2 separate regions of the Homo sapiens genome follow, and region 2 is linked to region 1. A link means that fine-mapping ties the variant in region 1 to the expression of a gene that starts in the linked region. Tissue or cell type: testis. Region 1 holds a variant in brackets; the other region holds the start of a gene. All regions are shown on one strand. Distances are between the middles of the regions. Region 1 has its middle 6.2 kb from the start of FBN3. Region 2 holds the start of CERS4 (ceramide synthase 4).

What was found. PIP is the estimated chance that this variant, and not a neighbour inherited with it, causes the effect.
Region 2: CERS4 starts here. The variant in region 1 is fine-mapped to the expression of CERS4 in testis (GTEx, PIP above 0.99).

The regions. Positions count from the first base shown.
Region 1 is chr19:8,151,622-8,159,974 of GRCh38, forward strand. No RefSeq gene overlaps it. Among named protein-coding and RNA genes, the nearest start is that of FBN3, 6.2 kb to the left of the region's middle. RefSeq lists silencers at 2,469-2,518, 2,639-2,688, 6,944-7,238. The variant A/G (reference allele first, on the strand shown) is at 3,328.
Region 2 is chr19:8,206,154-8,214,506 of GRCh38, forward strand. It overlaps CERS4 (ceramide synthase 4), which reads left to right and starts at 3,217. Exons shown (of 12, transcript NM_024552.3): 1 at 3,217-3,341; 2 at 4,553-4,709. RefSeq lists a silencer at 2,898-3,817.

The DNA of each region.
Region 1 (8,353 bases):
AGCAGAGACAGGGGGGTGGGGTTCCTGTTGGAGGGTGGGCCCAGGGGCTATTGTGGACAAACCAGTTTCCCCGGCCACCTTGGACACCTCTTTCCAGGCTCCTCTGCCAAGGTCCACCCAGATTTGTTCTGCAACAAATGAATCTTACATGGGCACGGGGACAAGCACCGGGTGCCCTAGAAGCAGCCCAGCATAGGTGCAAAAGGTGGGGAGAGATTGTCCCATCCCAGGGACACTGCACAGCCACTGTTGCCATGGCTAAGTCTGGAGGAGGGCTTTCCTGGAAGAACTGTGGGCCAGGGAGCGACTCAGTCCTAGAAGTCTCCCTACCTGCCCTCCAGAAGAGAGGGGAGAAGGAAGCCGGAGGGTGTGGCAAGACCAGGATGTGGAGCTGTTGGAAGTCACCGCAACTGAAGTGCTCGAAAACGGCAGATAGTGGGCATTGGTTGTTCACAGCCCCCAACCCAAGCTACTGTCCACACCGCGTGCTGTAGTTTCAGACTTCCCATGGTGCCACCCTGGTCTGTTATGTTATTGCCAGTTATTGATGTGGTATCACAGACAGTGTCACCCCCCACTGTACCCTTATTACATCACACTGTTAAGAAGGGACATTTAGGCTGGGCATGGTGGCTCACGCCTGTAATCCCAACGCTTTGGGAGGCCGAGTTGGGCATATCACGAGGTCAGGAGATCAAGACCATCCTGGCTAACACAGTGAAACCCCATCTCTACTAAAAATATAAAAAATTGCTGGGCGCGGTGGGTCACACCTGTAATCCCAGCACTTTGGGAGGCTGAGGCGGGCGGATCACGAGCTCAGGAGATCAAAACCATCCTGGCTAACATGGTGAAACCCCGTCTCTACTAAAAATACAAAAAATTAGCTGGGCATGGTGGTGGGCGCCTGCAGTTCCAGCTACTCGGGAGGCTGAGGCAGGAGAATGGTGTGAACCCGGGAGGCAGAGCTTGCAGTGAGCCGAGATGGTGCCACTGCACTCCAGTATGGGCGACAGAGCGAGACTCCATCTCAAAAAAAAAATAAATAAAATAAAAATAAATAAAAAAATTAGCCAGGCACGGGGGCACACACCTGTAGTTCCAGGTACTTGGGAGGCTGAGGCAGGAGAATCGCTTGAACCTGGGAGGCAGAGGCTGCAATGAGCCAAGATCACGCCACTGCGCTCTAGCCTAGGCGACAGAGCGAGACTCCATCTCAAAAAAAAAAAAAGAAGGGACATTTAGGCTTTAAATCCTACCGCATATCACAGTCCCCCCACCCAGGACTGTACAAAACACATGCATGGTCTCTCCGTCAAAACTGCATCATCAGCCAGGCGCTGTGCCTCACGCCTGTAATGTCAACACTTTGGGAAGCCAAGGTGGAGGATCCTTTGAGGCCAAGAGTTCAAGGCAAGCCTGGGCAACATAGCAAGACCCCATCTCTACAAAAAAATAGAAAAATTAGCTGGGCATGGTGGCATGTACCTGTAGTCCCAGCTACTTGGGAGGCTGAGGTGGGAGGAGTGCTTGAACCCAGGAGTTTGAGGCTGCAGTGAGCTATGATGTTGCCACTGGACTCCAGCCTGGATAACAGATCATGAACCTGTCTCTAAATATGTATGTATATCATCATCATCACCATGTTCCTATTCTACAGTCACTTGTCCCTATGACCCTGTCTCATTGTCACCTGTCCATGTGACACCCTGCTCTTTTCTGGTTGCTCCGCTACCTGGGACATGCATGTCTCCTGTCACCTTTACACCTTCACCTTTCTGCTGTGACACAGTCCCCGGCTCATGGTCATACCATTACCCAGAATGTCAGGGTTCTTAACATCACAATTCACTGGCATCAGCAACAACCGGGCTCAGCAGAAAGAGTGACCAAGCGTGGTGGTGCCGCAGCCAACCACATTCACACACATCACATGCAGATCGGGCCCCAGGAAGACACCATTCATTACCATCTGGCACCCTAAGCCCTGATGCTGCTCAGTGATCCGAGATGCTGGCACCAGTTCCCCCCACCCTCAGTAAAATGAGGTCCATGGGGGCTCCAATGGGGATCTGGTGTTTTAAAGTTTTTGTTTTTGTTTTTTTGACAGAATCTTGCTCTGTCGCCCAGGCTGGAGTGCAGTGGTGCAATCTCAGCTCACTGCAACCGCCTCCCAGGTTCAAGCCATTCTCCTGCCTCAGCCTCCCAAGTAGCTGGGACTACAGGCACACATCACCATCTAGTTTTTTTTTTTTCTTTTTCTTTTTCCTTTTTTTTTTTTTTTTTTTTTTTTTAGATGGAGTCTTGCTCTGTCTCCCAGGCTGGAGTGCAGTGGTGCCATCTCGGCTCACTGCAACCTCCACCTCCCAGTTTAAGTGATTCTCCTGTTTTAGCCTCCTGAGTAGCTGGGATTACAGGTGCCTGCCACCACGTCTGGCTAATTTTGTATTTTTAGTAGAGATGGGGTTTCACCACATTGGCCAGTCTGGTCTTGAACTCCAGACCTCAGGTGATCCACCTGCCTCGGTCCCAAACTGTGGGGATTACAAGTGTGAGCCACCGCGCCTGACCCCTAGTGGATGTTCTCTTTTTTTGGTTTTTGTCCTCCCCGGACCGCCCCCGCCCCGAGATGCAGTCTTGCTCTGTCACCCAGGCTGGAGTGCAGTGGTGGGATCTTGGCTCACTGCAACCTCCTCCTCCTGGGTTCAAGGAATTCTCCTGCCTCAGCCTCCTAAGTAGCTGGGATTACAGGCGTGTGCCACCACACCCGGCTATTTTTTTTTTTTTTTTTTTGTATTTTTAGTAGAGATGGGGTTTCACCATGTTGGTCAGGCTGGTCTCGAATTCCTGACCTCATGATATGTCCGCCTTGGCCTCCCAAAGTGCTGGGATTACAGGTGTGAGCCACTGCACCTGGCCCCTAGTGGGTTTTAAAATTACAGTGTCACCTGTTGCTGTCACCTGTTGCCTTCCCATCATTCCCAGTTCCTGTGACGTTGTCACCTGTTGCTGTCACATTGTCACACTATTAATGTCCCCCAGAACTGTCCCCCCCCGCTGCTGCCACTGTCATCCCGTTAAGGTCACTGTGAGTCACGCCAGCCCCACCCTCCGTTTGACTTTCTGAGCAGCCATGGAGCCCCCCCTCATAGGCGGGACTTGACTGTGTGCACCCAGAGCCAGCAGACCCCAGATGTTCATTAGCATGAGCTCGAGGAAGGCATGGAGACAGGAGTGGGCAGGGTGTGCCCAGGAGCACAGGGTCAAGGCTGGGGACAAGGAGATGGGAGGAGGGACGGGGAGATGCCTGCAGTCTATGGTGTGTGG[A/G]GTGCGCTGGGCCAGCCTAGGCCAGGGTGGCTTGGGGACAGAGCCCTCTTTGTATAAGCACAGGAAGCAGCTGGGAGTCAAAGCATTGCATACAACGCCAGGAGTTTGGCCACGTGCCCAGGAATGAGGCTTGGAGCGGGGAGGGAAGCCGCAGAGGACCCAGGAAAGCTCTGAGGAAGAGATCAAGCTGGATCCTCACAAGAGACCCTGAAGACAGGCTCTGATATCATCCCATTACACAGATGAGGAAACTGAGGCACAGAGCCACCACATCGCCCACTGGGACCCCACCACCAGGAAAGAATACAGGCAAATCTGAACCCAGGCCACAAAGCTGGAACCTTCCCCGTGGCCTTGGGCCCCCAGCCACACCCTCACCCCATTGCCTTGATGTTCTAGCTGGGGGACCTGTCTAGGGTCCATATACAATATATTATTTCTCTTTCTAATAAACACACATGTTTGCACCTTTATACATTGTTCTGTATTTGCCCTATTTCCTCTTTGTAAAAATAATTAAAAACAAACAAACAAACAAAAAAACAGGGTCTCCCTCTGTCACCCAGGCTAAAGTGCAGTGGGGAAGATAACAGCTCACTGCAGCCTCGAATTGGGCTTAAGCAATCCTCCCACCTCAGCCTCCAGAGTAGCTAGGACTACAGGCACATACTACCTGTCTAATTTAAAAAAATTTTTTTTTTTAGAGATAGAGTCTCACTATGTTGCCCAGGCTGGTCTCGAACTCTGGGATCAAGTGATCCTCCCAACTCATCCTCCCAAAGTGCTGAGATTACAGGCATGAGCCGTCACACCTGGCCTCTTTCTCTTTCTTTCTTTCTTTCTTTCTTTCTTTCTTTCTTTTTTTTTCTTTTTTTGTTCAGACAGAGTCTCGCTCTGTCGCCCAGGCTGGAGTGCAGTGGTACACTCTCAGCTCACTGCAACCTCCACCTCCCAAGTTTAAGCGATTCTCCTGCCTCAGCCTCCTGAGTAGCTGGGAGTACAGGCGCCCACCCCACACCCTAATTTTTGTAGTTTTAGTAGAGACGGGGTTTCACCATATTGGCCAGGCTGGTCTCGAACTCCTGACCATGTGATCTGCCCGCCTCCGCCTCCCAAAGTGCTGGGATTACAGGCGTGAGCCACGGTGCCTGGCCTCTTTCTCTTTCTAATAAACACAAATGTTAGCACCTTTGTATCTTGTTCTGTATTTGCTTTTTCTCATCTTTGTAAAAAAAATATATTTTTTTCTTGCAAACTAAATCAATCCCTCTCAATTACCATCTTCTTTTTACTGTTTTCTTTTACTGAGATCAATTTCACACAACATAGCACTTACTATGTTCAAGTGTACAATTCAGTAGCGTTCAGTACACGCAGTATGTGCAGCCACCCCCTCTATCTAGTTCCAAAACGTACTCATCACCCCAGAATGAAATCCTGTCCCCATTAGCAGTTGCTCCCCATTCCCCATACCCCAGTCCCTGGCAAACACTAATCCACTTTCTATTCTCTGTGGATTTGCCTGTTCCGGACATTGCACGTATTTATTTTATTTTATTTTATTTTATTTTATTTTATTTTATTTTATTTTGAGATGAAGTCTCCCTCTGTCACCCAGGCTGGAGTGCGGTAGTATGATCTTGGCTTACTGCAACCTCCACCTCCCAGGTTCGAATGTTTCCCTGCCTCAGCCTTCCGAGTAGCAGGGATTACAGGTGCACACGGCACCGCGTCTGGCTATTTTTTTTTTTTTTGGTATTTTTAGTAGAAACGGGATTTCATCATGTTAGCCAGGCTGGTCTTGAACTCTTGGCCTCAAGTGATCCATCTGCCTTGACCTCCCAAAGTGCTGGGATTACAGGCATGAGCCACCGTGCCTGGCCTAGACGTTTCACGTAAATGGAATCACACACTAGGTGGCCCTTTATTTTATTTTACTTTTTTTTTTTTTTTTTTTTGTGACAGAGTTTCTCTCTGTCACCCAGGCTGCAGTGCAGTGGCGCGATCTCGGCTCACTGCAACTTCCGCCTCCCCTGTTCAAGCAGTTCCCCTGCCTCAGCCTCCCAAGTAGCTGGGACTACAGGCACACGCCACCACACCTGGCAATTTTTTTTTTTTTTTTTTGTATTTTAATAGAGACGGGGTTTCACCATGTTGGCCAAGATGGTCTCTATCTCCTGACCTCATGATCTGCCTGCCTCGGTCTCCGAAAGTGGTGGGATCACAGGCGTGAGCCACCACGCCCAGCCTCTTTTAACTTCTTATTACATCTTGGCAATATTTCCATGTCGAGCCGGGAGCGGGGGATCACACCTGTAATCCCAGCACTTTGGGAGGCCAAGGCAGGCAGATCCCTTGAGTGCAAGAGTTAGAGACCAGCTGGGGCAACATGGCAAGCTCCGTCTCTACAAACAACACAAAGATTAGCCAGGCCTGGTGGCATGAGTCTGTAGTCCCAGCTACTCAGGAGACTGAGATGAGATCACTTGAGCCCCAGATGTCTGGGAGCCCCAGATGTCACTGTAGAGGCTACAGTGATCCGAGATCACATCACTGCACTCCGGACTGGGAGACAGAGCAAGACCCTTTCAAATAAAAAGAAAGACAGAGAGATAGAGAAAGAGAGAGAAGAAAAAGGAAGAAAGAGGAGAGGAGAGAAGATGCGCAGTGGCTCACGTCTGTAATCCCAGCACTTTGGGAGGCTGAGGCAGGTGGATCATGAGGTCAGGAGTTCAAGACCAGCCTGGCCAAGATGGTGAAACCCCATCTCTACTAAAAATACAAAAAAAATTAGCCAGGCGTGGTGGTGGGCACCTGTAATCCCAGTTACTTGGGAGGCTGAAGAAGAGAATTGCTTGAACCCGGGAGGCGGAGGTTGCAGTGAGCAGAGATCATGCCACTGCACTCCAGCCTGGGCGACAGAGTGAGACTCTGTCAAAAGAATGGAGAAAGAGAGAGAGAGAGAGGAGAAAGAGAGGAAGGAAGGAAGGAAGGAAGGAAGGAAGGAAGGAAGGAAGGAAGGAAGGAAGGAAGGAAGGAAAGAAGGGAGGGAGGGAGGGAGGGAAAGAAAGCAAGAGAGGCCGGGATGCAGTGGCTCAAGCCTGTAATCCCAGCATTTTGAGATGCCAAGGTGGGCTTTGAGGTCAGACTTCAACTGGATTAGGATTAGCCCTGCTGGGAGAAGAGAGGACTCTGGCACCCACTGCCAGTTCTGCCATCTGCACCCATTTATCTGGGGCCCCAATGCCCGCCCAGCCTCTCTCCCTCTGGTCTCATCCTTGCGGGCTAAGGGTGCACTTGCAGCTTTCCACTCTGCCCTCTGAAACCTTAAGGGTGCCATTAGTTAAGTCAGACAAGAAGACTGACACTCAAAAATAAAGTTGGTTAAGTGCAAATTGTCAGACCCAGAAACCTGAATATCACTGATCTTCAGAAAACGCACATGTGCCAGGGCCTTCATTGGCACTCAATAAACGCTGAATCGATGGATCAGTAAATGAATGAATGGTGAGCAAATCTGATATGACCGGAAGGAAGGAGTGGAAGTTGCTTGTGGAGAGACGAGCAGGACTCAGATTGAAAGGAGTCTTGAAAACCAGGAGCGTGGACATGACCTGGCGGCAGCAGGGAGCCACGGTGGGTTCTAGGCAGGGAGCGACGCCATCTGATTTACCTTTGAGGACCTCATTGCCAAGAGGAAGTTAATCAAATCTGTCACTAGGGGGCACTCAAGTCTTCCCATAGATTGTTAGGTGGCCACTGGTCACAGGGAGCTTTTGAGCATTTGAACCAGTTCTATGGAGATATAAGTGTGAAATCCACACGGAATCGCAAGCACTTCATACAAGAGAAAGAATGTAAGATGCCTCAAATAGCAATGACAGGGGTGAAATGCTGATATTTTGGGTACACTGGACTAAGTAAATTATATTATTAAAATTTCATCTGTTTCTTTTTACTTTTTAAAATGTGGGTTCTAGGCCACTCGGTGGCTTACGCCTGTAATCCCAGCACTTTGGGAGGCCCAGGTGGGCGGATCATGAGGTTAGGAGTTTGAAACCAGCCTGGCCAACATGGTGAAACCCCATCTCTACTAAAAATACAAAAAATTAGCTGGGCATAGTGGCAGGGACCTGAAATCCCAGCTATTCGGGAGGCTGAGGCAGGAGAATCGCTTGAAACTGGGAGGCGGAGGTTGCAGTGAACTAAGATCGTACCACTGCACTCCAGCCTAGGCAACAGAGTGAGACTCCGTCTCAAAAATATATATATAAATAAGTAAATATATATGAAATAAAATGTGGGTTCTAAAAGAGTTAAGATTGTCTATGTCGGTTGCATTAGTTTTTATTTTATTTCTTTTTTATTAGGCAAGATCACGTTCTGTTGCCCAGGCTGGAATGCAGTGGTGTGATCATGGCTCACTACAGCCTCAACCTCCCAGGCTCAAGCAATCCTCCTACCTCAGCCTCCCGAGTAGGTGGGATTACAAGTGCCGCCACCACACCCGGCTAACTTTTGTATGTTTTGTAAACACAAGGTTTCATCATGTTGTCCCAGCTGATCTCAAACTCCTGGGCCCAAGCGATCCTCCTGCCTCAGCCTCCCAAAGTGCTAGGATTATGGACATGAGTCACTGAGCCTGACCTTGCATTTATATTTCTATTGGACAGCACTGATTTAGAAAAAGAAGTTACTATTTTTTTCAACAGTCATCAGGGGTTGAACTACCCTCTCTTTTTCTCTTATTTCCTCTTACTTTGGTCATTCTTCAAGTTAACAATCTACCAGGTTGTTCTCTTTGTTCATTAAACGAAGGTAGATATTCATAAATACATAGACCAAAAAGAGAGGATGGGGTCATTGTTTCATAAATATGGAATCATATTGAACATACTTTTTTATTCACAGGACTTTCTGGAAACTTCTTAGACCACCTACTAAAATCTGAATTCATTCTTTTTAATTGCTTGATAATCATCTATGGTGTGGATGAACCTTCATTTATTCAACCACATCCCCACTG
Region 2 (8,353 bases), 55 kb after region 1:
CTCCAGCCCTGGCCTGCCCAGGTCCTCTTTTGAGCTCCCCTACTCCACTTCTCCGGAGTCCTGGGGCTTCTCCACTGGGGCGTGGACTCCACCATTCCACCATGTATCCTGTATTATATTATCGTTATTGTTTGTAGATACCGGGGTCTCACTATGTTGCCCAGGCTGGTGTCTCTTTTTTTTTTTTTTAATTGAGACAGGATCTCACTCTGTTGCCCAGGCTGGAGTTCAGTGGCATGATCATAGTTCACCTCAGCCTTGACTTCTGGGCTCAAGTGATCCTCCCACTTCAGCCTTCTGAGTAGCTGGGACTATAGGAGCACACCACCACGCTTGGCTAATTTTTGTATTTTTGGTAGAGATGGGGCTCTTGCCATGTTACCGAGGCTTGTCTCAAACTCCTGAGCTCCAGCAATCCACTCACCTCAGCCTTCCAAAGTGCTAGGATTACAGGTGTGAGCGACCAAGCCCGGTCATATATTATTATTAATACAAACAAATGCCATGCTCTGAGCACCCTGGAGTATGCGACATGTGATATTCAATAACTCCCTAGTCACAACAACTGAGAAGAGTTGCTTTATTATCTTTCTTTTCCAGGTGTGCAAACAAGCTCTTGGAGGGAAGGAGAGGAGAAAATAAACAGGTGAATATGGTGGGGGTGGGGTAAAGCAGGCAATGGAGGAAGGAGGAGGGGACTGAGGCTCAGGGAGAAGTATGTATGCATTTGAAAAGGGAAAGAGGCTGGGGCACAGTGGCTCTTGCCTGTAATCCCAGCACCTTGGAAAGCGGAGGCGGAAGGATCACTTGAGCCTAAGCGTTCCAGACCAGCCTGGGCAACATAGCAAGACCCCACCTCTACCAAAGTTTTTTTTTTTGTTTTTTTTAATTGAGACAGAGTCTTGCTCTGTCACCCAGGCTGGAGTGCAGCGGCACGATTTTGACTCACTGCAACCTCCGCCTCCTGGGTTCAAGTGATTCTCCTGCCTCAGACTCTCGAGTAGCTGGGATTACAGGTGCGCAACACCATGCCCAGCTAACTTTGGTATTTTTAGTAGAGAAGGGGTTTCGCCATATTGGCCAGGCTGGTCTCGAACTCCTGACCTCACGTGATCCACCTGCCTCGGCCTCCCAAAGTGCTGGGATTACAGGCATGAGCCACCACACCCTGCCTACCAAAGTTTTTTTATTTAAAACAAAAAAAAATTAGCCGGGCATGGTGGCAGGCATCTATAGTCCTAGCTCCTCTGGAGGCTGAGGTGAGAGGACTGCTTGAGCCCTGGAGTCCCAGGCTGCAATGAGCTGGGATCATGACATTCCATTCTAGCCTGGGCAACAGAGTGAGACTCCCATCTTTAACGAAATTTTTTTTGATAGAGTCTCACTCTGTTGTCCAGGCTGGAGTGCAGTGGCACGATCTCCACGCACTGCAACCTCTGCCTCCTGGGTTCACGTAATTCTACTCCAGGCTAATTTTTGTGTTTTTAGTAGAGATGGGATTTTGCCACGTTGGCCAGGCTGGTCTCAAACTCCTGACCTCAGGTGATCCACCCGCCTCAGCCTCCCAAAGTGCTGGGATTACAGGTGTGAGCCACCGCACCCAGCCTCTAACAGATTTTTTTAAAAAAAGAAAAGAGAAGGTCGGGCATGCTGGCTCACGCCTGTAATCCCAGCACTTTGGGAAGCCAAGGCTGGTGGATCACGAGGTCAGGAGTTTGAGATCAGTCTGGCCAACATTGTGAAACCCCCGTCTCTCCAAAAAAAAAAATATATATATATATAAATTAGCCGGGTGTTGTGGGCGCCTGTAATCCTAGCTACTCGGGAGGCTGAGGCAGGAGAATCGAATGAAACCAGGATGCAGAAGTTGCAGTGAGCCGAGATCATGCCATTGCAGTCCAGCCCGGGCCACAATGCAAGACTCCGTCTCAAAAAAAAAAAAAGAAAAAGAAAAAAGAAAAGAGAAACAGTGTAGCAGAGGGAAGGCCAAGTGCAAACGCCAGGAGTCTGAACTTGGAGGGACAGGTTCTTCCACACTTGCAACAGAGGTCTCCTGCCTCCCTGACCGCCCCGCCCCCCGCGCCCCTGTCTGTGTGAGGAAATCAAATCTCAGCTTGCCTAGGGCCCTGTGGCAGGGAGGCCCCAACTTCACCCCATGGGTCTTGGGTCTGCTGAGCTGAGTCAGAGAAAGGTTTATTATCCCCATTTTACAGAGGCTTATTGTCCAAAGGCGAAGCCACTTGCCCAGAGTACATGCGGTGGGCCAGCGACTATGAAAACCCCTGGGGCTGTCCTCTGTTCAGGGATCGCCCAGGCTCCCTGCCCCTGCGCGCTGCTGAGACTGGGTCATTTTCGGTTCTACCAGGCAAGCGGGGGACCCAGCCCCCACTGCTGCTGCCCTCAGCCAAAACCAGGGCTGCGCCACCACCCACCCGGCCTATCTCCCATCTTATCTCCCCAGCTCTGTCGCCTGACCCCTGCACCCCACCAAATCGCAGCCTTTGCCCGGTGCCCTCACCGCCTCGGTTGGCCCCCGCGCGCGCCTCGGGCGAACCCCTGGACTGGCCCTCCAACAGGGCCCCAGACTCGGGGTACCCAGGGTGGCCGCTGAGGCCTGGAGAAATCTGGGCCTCCCCTGTGCACCATCCAACTGCGCGCCCCAGAGGCTCAGGGCGCCCCGGGAGTGTGGGGGTGTGGACAGATGAGCAGAGCCAGAGCATCTCGGGCAGAAGAGGGGACCTGGGAGGGGGCCGGGGAGACAGACAGCGAACAGGGGTGAAGCCGGGGCCGGACGGAGCGCGCAGCGGACAATACTGGGTTCAAAGGGGAGAGATAAGGCGCAGACTAGAAACGCTAGGCTGGACCCGGGCCAGGCGCGCCGCGGGGCAGAGATGGGCGGAGCGGGAACGGGGGCGGGGGCGAGAATGGGGGGGCGGGGACGGGGGCGGGGATGGGGTGCGGGTGCGGGGTCGGGGGCCAGGGAGAGGCCTAGTTGCGTCGAGGGGGGCAAGCGCCTGGAGGACCCGGCGCCCGCTCCAGGCCCTGCCCCTCCAAGTCCCCCGCCCCGCGCCAGGCCCCGCCTCTCCAGGGCCCCAGCCCCGCGCCAGGCCCCACCGTTCCGGGGCGCGTGCCCCGCCCAGGCCCCGCCCCCACGGCCCCGCCCCGGGCTCCCCCCACTCAAGCCTTTTTTCCCCTGCTGGGGGCCGAGGCCCGGCCAGGAGCAGAGTCCGGCTGCCTGGGGCGGGCGGCGCGTGTCTGCAGCTGCTCCGGGTAGCCCGCTAGGCGCGCCGTCCCCAGCCCCGCCGCCGGCCCTCGGTGCGCCCGGCCGCCTGCACCCCCAGGTAAGCGAGCACCCCGCGCCGCGAACACCGCCCCGAACGCCACCCTCACGGCGGTCCCCGGCCCCGCCTCCGCGGCCATGGCGGCCCCAGCCCGGCCCCCACTCGCAGCTGGGCTCCAGCCCCCATCACCCCGCCGGGGACTGTCCCCCTCGGGGCTTCCCATCATGGCCGTCTCCCCGAGCTATCCGCGCTCCCCCACGAGGGCCGGGGCGCAACGGGTGCCCGAGGACGCGGCTGTGAAACGGGCTGGAGCGAGTAGGGGCGATCCTGGCCTCGTGACGCGGGGGAATCCGGATGTGTGAGCCGGGGGAGCGCCCCGTTTCCCCGACGTGCCAGGGCTGGGGACGCAGCTGGGGCCCTGGCCTCGGAGTCCGCAGCCCGGCCGCGTAGACGGCTTCTGAGAACCGCTTAAACACGTCATTCCAAGCCCGAGCTAACCCATCAGGCGGCCGGGGTGAGGTGGAGGTGCCCAGGCGGGGATAATGTCATTTGGCCTGGTTGGACCAGCCAGCGAGGGCTTTTTAGGCCCAGGGCCTAGCCGGGAGTGTGTGCGGAGCAGAAAAGAGGCCAGCCTGGCTGAAACGCGGAGAGGGAGGGTCTGAGGTGGAGAGAGGTTGGCCGGGGCCTGGGAAGCGGCGAGGAGAGTGTGGAACCCGTTCTCGGGGCGGTGGGGACCAGGGAGGCTTGGAACAGCAGGTGCATGGCGTGATCGGATTGTGTCTTAAGAACATCCCGTAGCCGCTGTGGGTAGGAGAGATGGGGATACTTGGAAGGGGGCTTCTGGCTTGACCTGGCTGGAAGGTGTGATAGGAAGTGGGTGAACTGAAAATTCGCTTTGGCAGAGTAACATCGTCTAATTCTGTCTGTTTGCAAGTGGAGCGTGGGGGACCGATGTTTCTCCTGGGTAGTTAGGAGTATATAGAAGAGGCTTTCATTGCTGGGTTGGGAGACTTGAGGAGAAGCTGCTCTGGGGGACACAGGAAGGTGGGCAGGGGGAGAGGCTGTTGTGGTTTGCAAAACCTACCAGATGGGGGAATGCTCCCATCGACTCCAGTCTGAGCTCAGGCAAGGTCTCAGGCATCTGAGCGCAGAGGCCAGGGTGACCCCACTGGGGCGACCTGGGTCTGTTATATGGGGATAGGGTTCCTGGACTGTGGAATTGTCTTTGAAGCCCTCGGCCTCCCCCAGCCTCAAATGGGTCTGCCTTCCAGGAGCAGCTGCTGTGAATAAACACAGAAGTGGAGCTGGGGGACTGATTAGAAGCCTCATTCAGTGCACCTGGGCCCCAGCAGGCCCAGCCAGGCGTGGAGGAAGAGGCATTGAGGACTTTCCTTACCTGTTTTTCCAGCTCACCCACTGCCAGCAGAGGTACTTTGAGCCTGGGGTGTGGGGGGTGGGGGGCGGCCTTGGTCGTTGAACTGGCTGTAGGGCCCCCAGGGAAAGGTTTCTGAGCTTCAGTTTACCCATCTGTAAAATGGGTCAGTAGTATCTGAGCCTGGGAGTGTTCATGGATCGATGAAAGCCGAGGCTAGGCAGATCTCGGTGGCAGCCACACCCCTAAGGAACCGGAGAGGGTTCTAACGCCCGGTGGGAGTTCAGGGGGATGTATGGGCTTCCATTTCTCCTCTGAGAAATTCACAACAGTGTCCACCTCCTGACCCAGGGCTGTCTGCAGGTTGAATAAAGCGGTTGACCCAGTGCGTGGCACAGAATGTCTTGGCTCAGGAGCCACTGGGATGCCTGTAGTTGGCAGCAGAAGTGGGCCCAGGTTCCCTCCTCCCACCCGTGGGATGGCACAGAAAGGCAGGTGCCTTGGGAGCTCGCTGCCCTGTCCCCTTCTCTGAGCACCACAAGCTTCTCCCTTTCCGACTGGCTGGGCTTGAGCCTGACCACCCCCCAGCCCTGTCCTGCCACTTTGAGTTGAGGGCCTCCGGGCTACTGACTTCACCACTTCCTGCTTCAGTTTCTCCACCTGTAAAATGGGATAATAGCAGTCATGACCTATAGGTAAAGAGCTGAACACAGTGCCTGGCTGGTTGTGAATACGTGCTAAACAGGCTATTAAAATATCACGAGAATATCACAGAGCTGGAGGCTATTAAAATATCACGGAGGGGCTGGGCGTGGTGGCTCACGCCTGTAATCCCAGCACTTTGGGAAGCTGAGGCAGGCAGATCACCTAAGGTCAGGAGTTCGAGAGCAGCCTGGCCAACATGGTGAAACCCCATCTCTACTAGAAATACAAAAATTAGCCGGGCGTGGTGGCATGTACCTGTAATCTCAGCTGCATGGGAGACTGAGGCAGGAGAATCTCTTGAACCTGGGAGGCAGAATTTGCAGTGAGCCGAGATCGCGCCACTGCACTCCAGCCTGGGCAACAAAGTGAGACTATCTCCAAAAAAAAAAAAAAAAAAAAAAATTCAGAGTCATGCCTGGGGTCAGGGGGAGTCCAGAGGAGTCACCTGACTCAGCCTAAGGAGGAGTCAGGGAAGGCCTCCTGGAGGAGGTGACAGTTGGCTGGGTCGCTAAGGGTAAGGAGGAGTTAACCAGGCCAAGAGACCAGTGGGCAAATTGCAGAGGAGAGAAACTGCCAGGGTGCTTGGATGAAACAACCACAAAGCCAGGGTTGTAAGATCCAGAAGAGGGGAGAGGAAGAAGGGCAGAGCCAGCCTGCCAGCCTTGAACAAGCATTTGGCATTATTTAGAGCTCAGGGAACAGACTGCAGGGGTCGAAGGCAGGAGCCTGGAGACCAGGATGGAAGGGACTGCACCAGGCCAGGGGAGTAATGGTGGGGCTGGACCAGGTGAAGGCGTGGACGGGTGAGACTTGGGTGGATCTTGGAGAGATATGGAGAGGCCGGGGGAGGGAGCAGCTGCTCATGGGGGAGAAGCTTTAGGTGTAAGTCAGCAATCTGTTCTCAGCATCTGGAAATTGCCATGCTGCTAGACACCCAGGTGGTACGGCGTAGGATGGGCTTTAAAGCAAGCTGGGAGCTTGGGAGACAGCAGAAAGAGGGCAGAAGGAAAACCAGGAGTGGGTGGCAAGCTGGGAGCCAAGGGAGCTGGGGCTGTCATAGGAGGAAAGGGTCTTGAAACCCCTGTTTGATAATTCAGTAGCAGGCATCTTACTGTTTTTTTAATTATTATTTTTTTTATTTTTTGGAATGGAGTTTCGTTCTTGTCGCCCAGGCTGGAGTGCAATGGTGCGATCTCGGCCCACTGCAACCTCCACCTCCCGGGTTCAAGCAATTCTCCTGCCTCAGCCTCCTGAGTAGCTGGGATTACAGGTGCGAACCACCACACCTGGCTAATTTTTATATTATTAGTAGAGATGAAGGGGGGTGGGTTTCACCATGTTGGCCAGGCTGGTCTCGAACTCCTGACCTCAGGTGATGCACCTGCCTCGGCCTCCCAAAGTGCTGGGATTACAGGTGTGAGCCACTGCGCCCAGCCCGTCTCACTTTCTTTTGTGGCTGCTCTTTACCAACCCTGTTCTGTTCCCCATGCCTTTCAGTACAAGCTCTTTTCTTTGCTTTTCTTTCTTGTTTTTGTTTTGTTTTTTCAAGACAAGTTCTGGCTCTGTTGCCCAGGCTGGGGTGCAGTGGTGCGATCTTCGCCCACTGCAACCTCCACCTCCCAAGTTTAAGCAATCAGCCTGGGACTACAGGCATAAGCCACCACACCTGGCTAATTTTTGCATTTTTTTGTAGTGATTTTGTAGAGTTTTGCCAGTTGCCCAGGCTGGTCTGAAACTATTGAGCTCAAACGCCTCAGCCTCCTAAAGTACTGGGATTACAGGCATGAGCCACTGCACTCGGCCTCTTTCTTTCTTTCAAAGGCAGAATCTTGCTCTGTCGCTCAGGTTGGAGTGCAGTGGCATGATCATAACTCACTGCAGCCTCGACCTCCTGAGCTCAACCTCAGCCTCCTGAGAGCTGGGACCACAGGCATGCACCACCAGGCCTAGCTAATCCTTAAAAAAAAATTTTATACACATGGACAGGGGTCTTACTATGTTGCCCGGGCTGGTCTTGAACTCCTGGCCTCAAGCGAGCCTCCAGCCTCAACCTCCCAAAGCACTAGGATTATAGGCATGAGCCACTGTGCCTGGCCAAGCGCAGGCTTTTCTTTGCCATCCTTGAATAGGCCCCTCAGACCCATCATGGCTCTGACCAGAGTAGCATAGAGAGGCCCGGCGCGGTGGCTCACGCCTGTAATCCCAGCACTTTGAGAGGCCGAGGCGGGCAGATCACCTGAGGTCAGGAGTTCGAGACCAGCCTGGCCAATATAGTGAAACCCCGTCTCTACTAAAAATATAAAAATTAACCCTGTGTGGTGGCATGCTCCTGTAATCCCAGCTACTTGGGAGGTTGAGACAGGAGAATTGCTTGAACCCAGGAGGCAGAGGTTGCAGTGAGCCAAGATCGCACTACTGCACTACTGCACTCCAGCCTGGGTGACAGAGCAAGACACTGTCTCAAAAACAAACAAACAAAAAACAGAGTAGCATAGAAGAGACCTTCCCCTCCCTGAGTCTGGACTTTATACCTTTGTTAATAGGATGCTGTCACACACACACACACTGAACCGCCTGGAGCTCAGCTCAGCTTTCCCTCCCTACCCCCTCCTGGACTCCCAGAGACAGATTTTAATCCAGGGTCCCATGACACTGTGTCTGAAGAGTGATCATTTCCTATCAGCTATGCCCTGGGGACCCCTTCTGCCCTGTGCCTGGCCCCACTTTCCTCCCACCCCTGTCTGTCTGTCTGTCTGTCATTTGTTCATTCAGCACAGACTTAGGAAGTGTCTGCAGTGGGAGGCACTGGGGACAGACAGCCACAGGAAGCCTTACGGAGCTGATGTCCCCGCAGGGAGAAGGTGATGGGGACAAGGATGAGGCTTGAAGGAGCAGCTAGACATCTGGAGGAAGAGTGCTCCGGGCAGAAGGCCCAGCAGGTGCAAAGGCCCTGAGGCTGGAACAGGCATGGTGTGTTGGAGGAATGCAATGAGGC